Linked DNA regions of Homo sapiens: region 1 is linked to region 2. Evidence: fine-mapped QTL for protein levels in blood plasma. A gene starts in region 2. The other region holds a variant in brackets. All regions are shown on one strand. Distances are from middle to middle. Region 1 overlaps DIP2B (disco interacting protein 2 homolog B). Region 2 holds the start of GPD1 (glycerol-3-phosphate dehydrogenase 1).

The links. A credible set is the group of variants that fine-mapping cannot tell apart. PIP is the chance, under the fine-mapping model, that this variant and not a neighbour inherited with it causes the effect. The UK Biobank Pharma Proteomics Project read protein levels with antibody pairs (Olink). The fine-mapping took linkage between variants from a reference panel, not from the people measured, so its PIPs are less certain.
Region 1: its variant is the best candidate, but not a certain one, in a credible set for the plasma level of the GPD1 protein (UK Biobank, PIP 0.84).

Annotation. Positions count from the first base shown.
Region 1 is chr12:50,643,676-50,649,049 of GRCh38, forward strand. All of the region lies in intron 3 of DIP2B (disco interacting protein 2 homolog B), which reads left to right. Among named protein-coding and RNA genes, the nearest start is that of ATF1, 120 kb to the right of the region's middle. The variant G/C (reference allele first, on the strand shown) is at 3,386.
Region 2 is chr12:50,101,153-50,106,474 of GRCh38, forward strand. It overlaps GPD1 (glycerol-3-phosphate dehydrogenase 1), which reads left to right and starts at 2,856. Exons shown (of 8, transcript NM_005276.4): 1 at 2,856-2,939; 2 at 3,422-3,599; 3 at 4,396-4,536; 4 at 5,136-5,274. The coding sequence starts at 2,899. RefSeq lists an enhancer at 1,866-1,915.

The DNA.
Region 1 (5,374 bases), 540 kb after region 2:
AATTGAGTCTCTGAGAATTCTGGCTTCTCCGAATAAGAAGAAATCAGCAGGGGTGGCTCATGCCTGTAATCTCAGCACTCAGGGAGGCCGAGGCAGGAGGATTGCTTGAGAAGAGACCCGCAGCCCCTGCAGAGGTGGAGCAGATAAGTAGTGGAGGTTGATGGGAGCTGACCTTATATCTGTTTGCTACGCCAGTCATAGAAAGGGTTACATTTACATGTCATGTGCAAAAATAGCTGAAGAATTTAGGGTATATTTAATAAAAGTTGCTAGAATTCAGAATAAAGTGATGGCTATGTAAGAAGGATTTTATATTAATGCTGGTAAGTGTAATTATAAAACACTTTCTTATTTGATGGAGGCTTATTAACACCTATAACATTTCAACCAATCATAATCAAATCTAAATAGACTTAGTGTTCACATTTCAGACACAGTATAAAGAACTTACCTTTATTCAGAGTTTAGATTATCTGACCTGATTCCATTCTTTGTGCTTTAGCCAAGAGGGAGCTTAATTTCAAGTATACTACCTTATTAGTATATTTCTTTTTCCTGCACATCCAGGCATGATTCACCTCCCTGCACACACATAGTATGGTCTCAAATGTAGAAAACACAAATTAATGCCTGAGATGGAAAGTGATCTTATTGTAAGTCATTCTGACTCCCTTGATGTTAATCTCTTGAGAAGTTAGGTACCTCAAACAAAACAACAAAAATAAAACAGGACATTAAGGGAGTATTCGTATTACCTTATTCAGCTCAAACATGAATACTGGAAAATGATACCCAGCTTCCACATGCTTCTGGGAGAGATGTCCAAAGTCACTTGTGTCTGGGGACTGAACTCCAGAAGTGACTTCTTTATCAAAGATCAAGATGAATTGTGTGGTGTTCAGTGAGTCAAATTCAGTTAAGAGAGCTGCCTGTTCTTATCAATAAGAGTCTTTTCTAATAGATAACTGAACATCTCTTTTTGACACTGGTGTATGGGTCAAGGTTTATCATGTTAGAAAATAGTTGGGTGGCTTGATTCGTTTTGTAATCTGTTGCTGTGAATGCCTGTGACAGGGAAAAACATGCTCTGTAATTACTAATTATCCAAATGTTACAGGCCTTCTAAAGCTTTCTTAATGTGTGTAATTCCCTAGCTTTGTCCAGTTTGCCATTACATATTTCATATCATATATAAAAATGCTTTTGGAAATGTACTCTTTTTAATTAATAAATGTAAGAATTTGATTTGCTGTTGTCTGTTACTTTCTCAGTAGAAGTGATTAATCATTTTTTAAGACAGCTAGGAATCATTTTTCCTTCTAATATAAGGAGGACATTTTTCTCATTTTTAACATACCTAAAATCAGAATGTTTTATACAAGATGACACCATAGATTCAATTAAATATGCAATCGTGATTCAACTAAGTAAATTCCAAGGACACTACAATTGTATAATCAGTATAAATGCAGTATAAAATTATTTCATTTCAGAGCTAAAAATAAGTTGGTAATGTCTTAAAAGTAATAGCCCAACAGTTTGGCAATATCATTAAAATTTTAAATAGTCATGTTCTTTATCCAGAAATTCTACTTCTAGGAATTCATTTTATATAAACAGTCGTGTGCACAAAGATATATACATACATATACAAAGATGTTTGTTGTAGTATTGTGTATAATACAATGGTTAAATAAGTCATAGAATGTTCACACAGTAGAATTTTATGAACGTTAAAATGAGGTAGATGTATTTGTGCAAATATGGAAGGATGTACAAAATCCTTTTTTTTTTTTTTTTGAGACAGGGTCTCACTCTGTCACTCAGGCTGGAGTACAGTGGCACAATCATGGCTCAGTGCAGCTTCTAACTCCTGGGTTCAAGCAATCTTCCTGCCTCAGCCTCTTAAGTAGTTGGAAGTACAGGCACATGCTACTGTGCCAGGTTAACTTATTTTATTTTTTGTAGAGATGGGATCTCACTTTGTTGCCCACGCTGGTGTCGAACTCCTGGTTTTAAGCAATCCTCCCGCCTTGGCCTCCCCCAAGTGCTGGGATTACAGTGGTGAACCATTGTGTCCAGCCCAAAATATACTTTTTAAATAATAAAGGCAAGACAGTATGTAGCATATAATCTGATTTTTATAAATAATATGTTTATAATTGTAATATTTATAGCATTATTATGTTATAGTAATATAAACATATGCTACTATGTTTATAGACATGGAGACCTGGAAAAATATATACCAAACTATTGAGGCAGGAGTATTTTTGGGAAATGGTGGGTCTAGGGAAAGTTTTCACTTTAGCTTTATATATGTTTAGATCTTTTTGCAATGTGTATTTTTTCAATCTTTCATTATAGTAAAATAAAATTTATGTGTATTGTAAATTTTAAAGATAGGTTTTAAGATTTTAAGGTCTTAATTATTGTTTATTTATTTTATTTTATTTTATTTTTTTTGAGACGGAGTCTCACTCTGTTGCCCAGGCTGGAGTGCAGTGATGTGATCTCAGCTCACTGCAACCTCCGCCTCCTGGGTTCAAGTGATTCTTCTGCCTCAGCCTCCCAAGTAGCTGGGATTACAGGCACGTGCCACCACACCCAACTAATTTTTGTATTTTAATAGAGACGGGGTTTCACCATATTGGCCAGGCTGGTCTGGAGCTCCTGACCTCGTGATCCGCCTGCCTTGACCTACCAAAGTGCTGGGATTACAGGCGTGAGCCACTGCGCTTTGTCTATTATTATTATTATTTTTGAGACAGAGTCTCACTCTGTTGCCCAGGCTGGAATGCAGTGGTGCTATCTTGGCTCATTGCAACCTCCGCCTCCTGGGTTAAAGTAATTCTCGTGCCTCAGTCTCCCGAGTAGCTAGGATTACAGGCACATACCACCGTGCCCAGCTAATTTTTGTATTTTTAATAAAGATGAGGTTTCCCTGTGTTGGCCAGGCTGGCCTCAAACTCCTGGCCTCAAGTGATCCACCCACCCTGGCCTCTCAATGTGCTGGGATTACAGGTGTGAGCCACCATGCCCGGCCCAGTTATTGTTCTTAATGACTTTTACTCTAAGTATGGATTCTTCTGATTTAATGCTGGGAGCTAAATGCAGTACTAACTCGCTTTGCCACCCTAATTGTGAACTTTTCTGTCTGTCCAAATCTAATCTCTGATCTGGTGATGGCTGGCACTGGCACACCAAGATCATTTTATTTCTGATATATTCCTCATGCTGTAGAAGGTAAGTTGAATTCAGTTCAGCAAGCATTTATTGTAGACTTCCTATATTTTGAGAAAAATGTTAGATTGATAGAGAAGCATAGATGAAAACACAGGAGTTTTTCTTCTGTTTTTCTTGTTTGTCTTTTTTTGGGGGGAGG[G/C]GGGTGGGGGACGCTGTGGTCCCGCTCTGTTGTCTAGGATGAAATGGAGTGACACAATCTCGTCTCACTCCAACCTCCGCCTCCTGGGCTCAAACGATCCTCCCTCCTTAGCTCGAGTAGCTGGGACTACAGACAAACCCTGTCATGCCTGGATGATTTTTGTATTTTTTGTGGAGACAGGGTTTCACCATGTTGCCTAAGCTGGAGTTTTTCTCCCCCCCGCCCAAAACAAGGTTCAGAGGTGACACAGAAGAGGGAGACGGGAAGGCATACAGTGTCAAGAATGGGCTTCAGAATGGAGGTGGTGATGTCTGAGCCATTTTGAAGGATGGATAATTATTTGGATATTCCAGGCAGAAGAAACATAATTTATCAAGGCAAGGGAATGTGAAATGGAAAATTAAAATATCCCCTCCTTTTCCTCTCCACCCTGCACAGAGTAGTGCCCTAATTAGTGTTGTGATATCCTATTTCAGAAGTTAGTCGTTGCTGCCTCTGCAAGAGGTCAGTACCTTAGAAATTAAGGAAAAATGGCATGACTGCTTGTTGGCTTGCAAGGAATTCCTTGAACAATACCTCTCTGCTTTATGACTCAACCCACCTACACATTTGCTTTTCAGTCACTCTGTCCCTATCTGTCTGTCTATGGAAAAATCCTAACAAGTAAGGTCACTTGGTCTGAGTTCTGGCCCTGGTCCTTAAAGCCCAGGTGTGCCACTCATGGATCATATGCTAACCACTTTGTAAAAATAAGCCAAGAATAGGAGCAGCTGGCCGGGCACAGTGGCTCACACCTGTAATCCTAGCATTTTGGGAGGCCGAGGCAGGTGGATTGCTTGAGGTCAGGAGTTTGAGACCAGCCTGACCAAACCCCGTCTCTACTAAAAATACAAAAATTAGCCAGGCGTGGTGGCGTGCGCCTGTAGTACCAGCTATGCGAGAGACTGAGGCAGGAGAATTGCTTGAACCCAGGAGGCGGAGGTTGCAGTGAGCCAACATCGCGCCACTGCACTCCAGCCTAGGCGACAGATCGATGCTCCAACACTCCGTCTCAAAAAAACAAACAAACAAACAAAAACCAAAAGAATAGGAGCAGCTACTTTGAAACTAAAAATAACATATTCCACTTAGTCTTTTTGGGAAAGATGAGAAAACAAATGTTTCAGTGTTATCCTTATCTTGGTGGTAAAAGTATTATTTCTTTTGTTACTAATGAGGTTGGACATTTGGAGATATGTTTACTGGCCATTTGTGCTTCTGTAAACTACCTGTCCATTGCCTAAGCCTATTTTTTTTATTATTTTATTTATTTATTTTTTTTGAGACGGAGTCTCGCTCTGTTGCCCAGGCTGGAGTCCAGTGGCCCGATCTCGGCTCACTGCAGGCTCCGCCTCCTGGGTTCACGCCATTCTCCTGCCTCAGCCTCCCGAGTAGCTGGGACTACAGGCACCTGCCACCACGCCCGGCTAATTTTTTGTATTTTTAGTAGAGACGGGTTTTCACTGTGTTAGCCAGGATGGTCTCGATCTCCTGGCCTCGTGATCCGCCCGTCTCGGCCTCCCAAAGTGCTGGGATTACAGGCGTGAGCCACCACGCCCAGCCCCCTTTTTTTTTTTTTTTTGAGTTGGGTTGTTCTTCCCCCCCCCCTCCTTACTTGCAAGGGCTTTTTTTTAATCCTAAAGATACTAACATTTAAATTGTACCATAGGTATTTGCCAGTGCAGATGGACAAGAAAAATCAGTAAGAAGTGTAAGAATTAGAAAAGAAGTAAAACTGTATTTACAGTTTATGTGATAATTTATCTAGAAAACTCGAGAGAATCAATGACAGAATTAACTTAAAACAATTTAGTCAGCAAGATATAAAGCGAGTACAGAAATCAACAACCTTAACATATGCAAATAATAAGCAGTTAAAAGATACAATAGTAGAGCAAACTTCATTTACAAAAGCAATAAAGGTAAAATATATTTAGGAATAAACTTAAG
Region 2 (5,322 bases):
GTGCCTGCTACTCTTTTTTTTTTTTTTTTTTTAGACGGAGTCTCACTGTTGCCCAGGCTGGAGTGCAGTAGCGCGATCTTGGCTCACTGCAAGCTCTGCCTCCTGGGTTCACGCCATTCTCCTGCCTCAGCCTCCCGAGTAGCTGGGACTACAGGCGCCTGCCACCATGCCCGGCTAATTTTTTGTATTTTTTAGTAGAGACAGGGTTTCACCGTGTTAGCCAGGATGGTCTCGATCTCCTGACCTCGTGATCCGCCCGCCTCGGTCTCCCAAAGTGCTGGGATTACAGGTGTGAACCACCGTGCCCAGCCTGTGCCTGCTACTCTAAGGTTCCGCTTTCATGGTTCAAATAAGAGTTCAGTTTTTGTTTGCCTGTTTTGAGATGGAGTTGTGTTCTTGTTCCCCAGGCTGGAGTGCAATGGCGCGTTCTCGGCTTACTGCAACCTCCGCCTCCCAGGTTCAAGTGATTTTCCTGCCTCAGCCTCCTGAGTAGCTGGTTCTTAAGAGCACCATGGAAGTTCTGTGTTGTCATCCTCATACTGTAGACAACTAGCCCCTCCTTGGCAGAGTTTGGAAGACAGCTCAGGAGGGATTCCCATTAGCAATCACTTGAAACTCGCCTGCAGTTCTGCCTGCTTCCCACTTGGAGGCTCATGACTTTTTTCCTTTGTCATTATGCAAGAATGGGGTTTGGAATATAGGATCAGAGTACAACCACTTTCCAAAGTTGTAGTTTAAAAATTATCCTTTGCCTGTTTGGATGGGAACATTCTAGTATTGCCTGTTCAATATATGTAATCAAACCCACCAAAAAATCCAACCACTGTTCCTACTCCGGAACTTGGGGTTTATCAGACTTGAGAAGGGAAAGCAGAGAGGAGTGGTTGGGCCGATAACTAGGAGTGGAGAAAATTGATGTCAAGGACATTGAAATGGCATCTGTTTTTACCCAGGCTAATTACATGTGTAATGAATGGCTGATGAACCATTATTAATTTCAAGCAAATCTACAGTTTGCTCTTGGGAAAAGAGCTCTAGTGATACAGATAACTTCCTGTGATGAGCCGATTCTGAATCTCTGCACCCTCTTTATTCCCATGTAAATGAGCACATTCTTAGTCTCCACACTATCTAAAATGATTGTAGGGGCAAAATGAGAGAGGGAAGCATTTAGGCAAAAACAAGGGGGTTATTTTATGCATAAACATCCATTCTTTGGGGCTCCCATCATTTGTGCCAGGGACAGAAGCATCCTTTCTCTTCCATCACCCGTAATCAGTGCTCCCAGCTGGCAGCCTGGCACTGGAGCCTTCATCTCAGTGCCAGTGCAATAAAGGAGTGGTCTGTGGGAGGCTGTTTCTGTATTAGGTATAACATTGTGCTAAGAAAAACAGCCAACTACTGATTTCATGTCCGTTTCCCTATGGGAAATTACTGGCCATGGAAGGAGAATATGGTTGGTTTTTCCTGGGCAGTCCCCGGAACTTAGAAAGCCATTTCTCCCCAGTCTTGACCTCCTGCCTGCTTACTCCTACCCATGGGTTGCACACAGACTCCCCTGTAGCCCAGTGCTTGTTACCAGTTGCTGGCCAGCAACAGCCCAGGGGGATGGCAACACCCACCTAGCCGTCTGCCAAGCCAGGAGGTCAGCACATGAGCACACAGTGGTGTCTGCCCTCTAGGCCAAGGTGCACAGTGTTAGGAGCCTCTTGCTCCACTCTCCAGATCAGCCTGGAAACCAGAGCTTCCCTCGTCTTAGACAAACAGATGGCCGTGGGCGATGCAGAGCCCTGAACTGCTGAGGGTGCTCCTTCCATTCTCGCCCTTCCCCAAAAAACATACACCAAACTTACCCCCAATCACAGCATCTGAGACCACAAAGCCCCACGGACACAGCTGCCCCGGGTACTGCCTGCCTTCCCCTTTTCTGGCCTCTGCAAACTAGCCATTCACCTGATGAAGCCCCTGGGGCAGTACCTTGGAAACCCCTGAGAGGAGGAGTTGAAGGAGGCTCAAAGCCTTTCAAGGACAGTGTGCACTCTGCCTGCCTCCTATTCTCTCCTGTCCTCTTAAGCCCAGAGTCTACAACAAAATTGTGTACCGCAATTCTCAGAGCTCTCTAACTTTAACCTTTCCCACCTTCCCTAGAACACATTTTTGGGTGGGGATCATCTGAGAGGCCCATGGATGAGTCCCCAAGATGACCTCTGTGGGTGACCAAGACAATCTTGTCTTTTGAGGCACCTGGAGTCTCTCATCCTTTTTTGAGCTGGGCTGTCCTCAAAGCAGGCCCTTACCTCTTATGTGGCCTCATCTTTAGAGGTGGGAAGTGGGCCCACATCCCCCACCCCAGCCCTGCAGTGGAGCTAGCGTGGGCCTGCTGGAGGACAGAACTGTGGAACAGGGTCCTGTGAGGATATGTGGCAGGGTTGGCGGGGGGATAGGGGGTCATGGAGGAGCCTACCTCTGAAAAGCATTCCCCTAGCTGCTACTGAAGCTAAATACAATTTATTTCATGCTGGGGGACAGAAAGGAGCAAGGGAGAGCAGTCACCTGCTCCTTATCTGGGCTATTTTCTTAGCAGACCTCAAAATGAGACCATGGTGGGAAGCTGGGCTGGGGCCAAGGGAAGAAGCTTGCCAGCACTGTCAGCCGATGAGCCCAGGAGAAAAAGCTGGGCCTAGTCTCTGCCCCATTCCTGTTCCACACCTGTCTGTACCCCTGTCTCTCCTTTCCCTGGCTCTGCCAGACTCTCTATCTCCCTGGGCGCCAGCCTCCCCACCCACCCCTGGAGGGCGGGGCTTGGCTGCACCCACGTGTGGTGGAGTTAAATGCTCCTAGCCGGCAGAGGAGCTAGGGAGTGTGGCACTGAGCCGGCTCAGGCAGAGACGCGGCACCATGGCTAGCAAGAAAGTCTGCATTGTAGGCTCCGGGAACTGGTAAGCAGCTCTGTCAAGTGATATGGGGGAAGGGTAGGCCCCCCAAGACAGAGGTGGGTAGGAGGCAGAATGGGTGGGAAAGGCCCTCAGGTTCCTGTTCAGCCCCTGCTGCTATCTTCTATCATAGCAGCACAGGACAGACGGTGCCCGGCCCTCTCCTGACCCCCGCCCTCCTGGGCAGCTGCACCTGTTCACCATGGGAAGGCGTCTCCAGAGCTCTCTATGTGAAGAGCCGCTTGAGTTTGGGGGTGGGAAGATGAGAAGTGGGGCTCCCTTCTCTAGTAGCAAAGGGTGAGGAGACTGAGTCTCCTTTCTACTGCCAGGTCACTGGGGACTATTTGTCATGGGAGTGGAGGTGATAAGGAAGGTAGGTAGGAGTGAACAGCCTGGGGGGCTGCTGTGAGATCCTGAGGTGGGGCGCTGCCCCAACTCCTGCCACTGTTCCCTCCTCCTGTACTTTCCTGTGCTCCCCCTCCCACCAGGGGCTCAGCCATCGCCAAGATCGTGGGTGGCAATGCAGCCCAGCTGGCACAGTTTGACCCACGGGTGACCATGTGGGTATTTGAGGAAGACATTGGAGGCAAAAAGCTGACTGAGATCATCAACACGCAGCATGAGAATGTCAAATACCTGCCAGGGCACAAGTTGCCCCCAAATGTGGTGAGCCCCAACACCCTGCGAAGAACAGGGAGAGGAAGGGAGGGCCAGGAGTTGGAGCCGACCTTACTCAACAGGTGCCTCCTGCTGAGAGGGCCGCTTCAGGTGCAGCAGGACTTGGGAAGGTCTCAGGAGGGCTGCTCTGGGCCCTTTCCTGAGGACTGAGGAGAACCTATGCTTTCCCCTCACAGGCTCCCAGGCGGGTGGGTGGGGAAGGGATGGGAGAACAAGTTGGTCTCCATGGCAGCCAAAGACTGGGCTCCCAGACTTGGGGTCCAGTAGTGCCTGCCTCCGGCACTAATCCTGTTACTCATTCACTGAGTGAGTAGCCGACTTGGAGGCTGCTCCTTGGACTTACGGTCTTTGGTCAAATCCACGTGGCTCTCCCCACCTGGAAAGGGGAAGCAGGGAAGAGAGCAGAAAGGCTGGGGCTCCCCCTTCCCAGCTGGGGTTCCTGAGGAGCTGGGTGATGAAATCTTATTTGAGCTCTTTCTTTTGCCAAGCCCAGGCTGCTTTTGGCCTCCCGCACTGTCCCACAGCCAAGGGATAGGAGAGTGCTGGGATGAGGTTTCCAGGAGTCCTCAAGAGCCCAGGACAGCTGGAGGGAGACAGAGTGGTAGCTGGGGGGAGGGAGTAGAGTGTCTTATTCCTCCAAGTTCAGTCCTTCTAGATTCAGTCCCAAACAAGCCTTCCTGCTCCCCTACCAGCCTCACTCTTTGGCTCCCAGATCTCCTGAATAGGGTTCCACAGGGGCTAGGGGAGGTCTGCCAGGCCCGCGAGCACTTGGTCACCCCCACAGGTGGCTGTCCCAGATGTGGTCCAGGCTGCAGAGGATGCTGACATCCTGATCTTTGTGGTGCCCCATCAGTTCATCGGCAAGATCTGTGACCAGCTCAAGGGCCATCTGAAGGCAAACGCCACTGGCATATCTCTTATTAAGGTGCCAGGGACACCTTCATGTGGATGGGGGAGGGTGCGGCTCACTGTTGTGGGGTTCAGGGTGGGTGAAGCAAGGAGAACAGAAAATGGCAGACGCAGGCCAAGAGTTTGCTGGAGAAAAGAGAGGCAGTTGGCTCTGGAGAGGCTTAGGAAAGCAGTGAGGTGCTGGGGGTCACTGGAAGGGAGGCTGAAGGGAGGAGACGAGATTGGTTTGGAGGTCCTCTCGGGGAGTTTCGGAGGTATAAAGGAATGCCTGGGAGATATGAGAAGCGGGCTGGTTTGAGAAGTGTGAAGAGTAGCTGGTTTGGAGCAGTGACTGGTCACTGAATGGCAGTTTGTTGGGGCAGTCAGGCGGGGTTGCCTAGGGATGTGGAGGGGACCCGTTGCCTTGGAGAAGTAGACTGGTTGAGGGTATGTGGCAGGACAGTTGGTCACATGCTGTCTGGCCTCCTCACAGCAAACTTGAGCTGGGTTGGAATGGGGCAGGACCTGTCGGGAGGGACACAGATGAGCAATGGATTTGGAAGGGACAGAATTTCTGGGCGGAAGCCCGCAGGTGGGCCCAAAGGGCACCTGGCCTGAGCTCCATCCTGTGCTCAGGGGGTAGACGAGGGCCCCAATGGGCTGAAGCTCATCTCGGAAGTGATTGGGGAGCGCCTCGGCATCCCCATGAGTGTGCTGATGGGGGCCAACATTGCCAGCGAGGTGGCTGATGAGAAGTTCTGTGAGACAACCATTGGTGAGAGCCCCCTGGCACCTGCATACACAGTGCATCTAGTTGCATCCC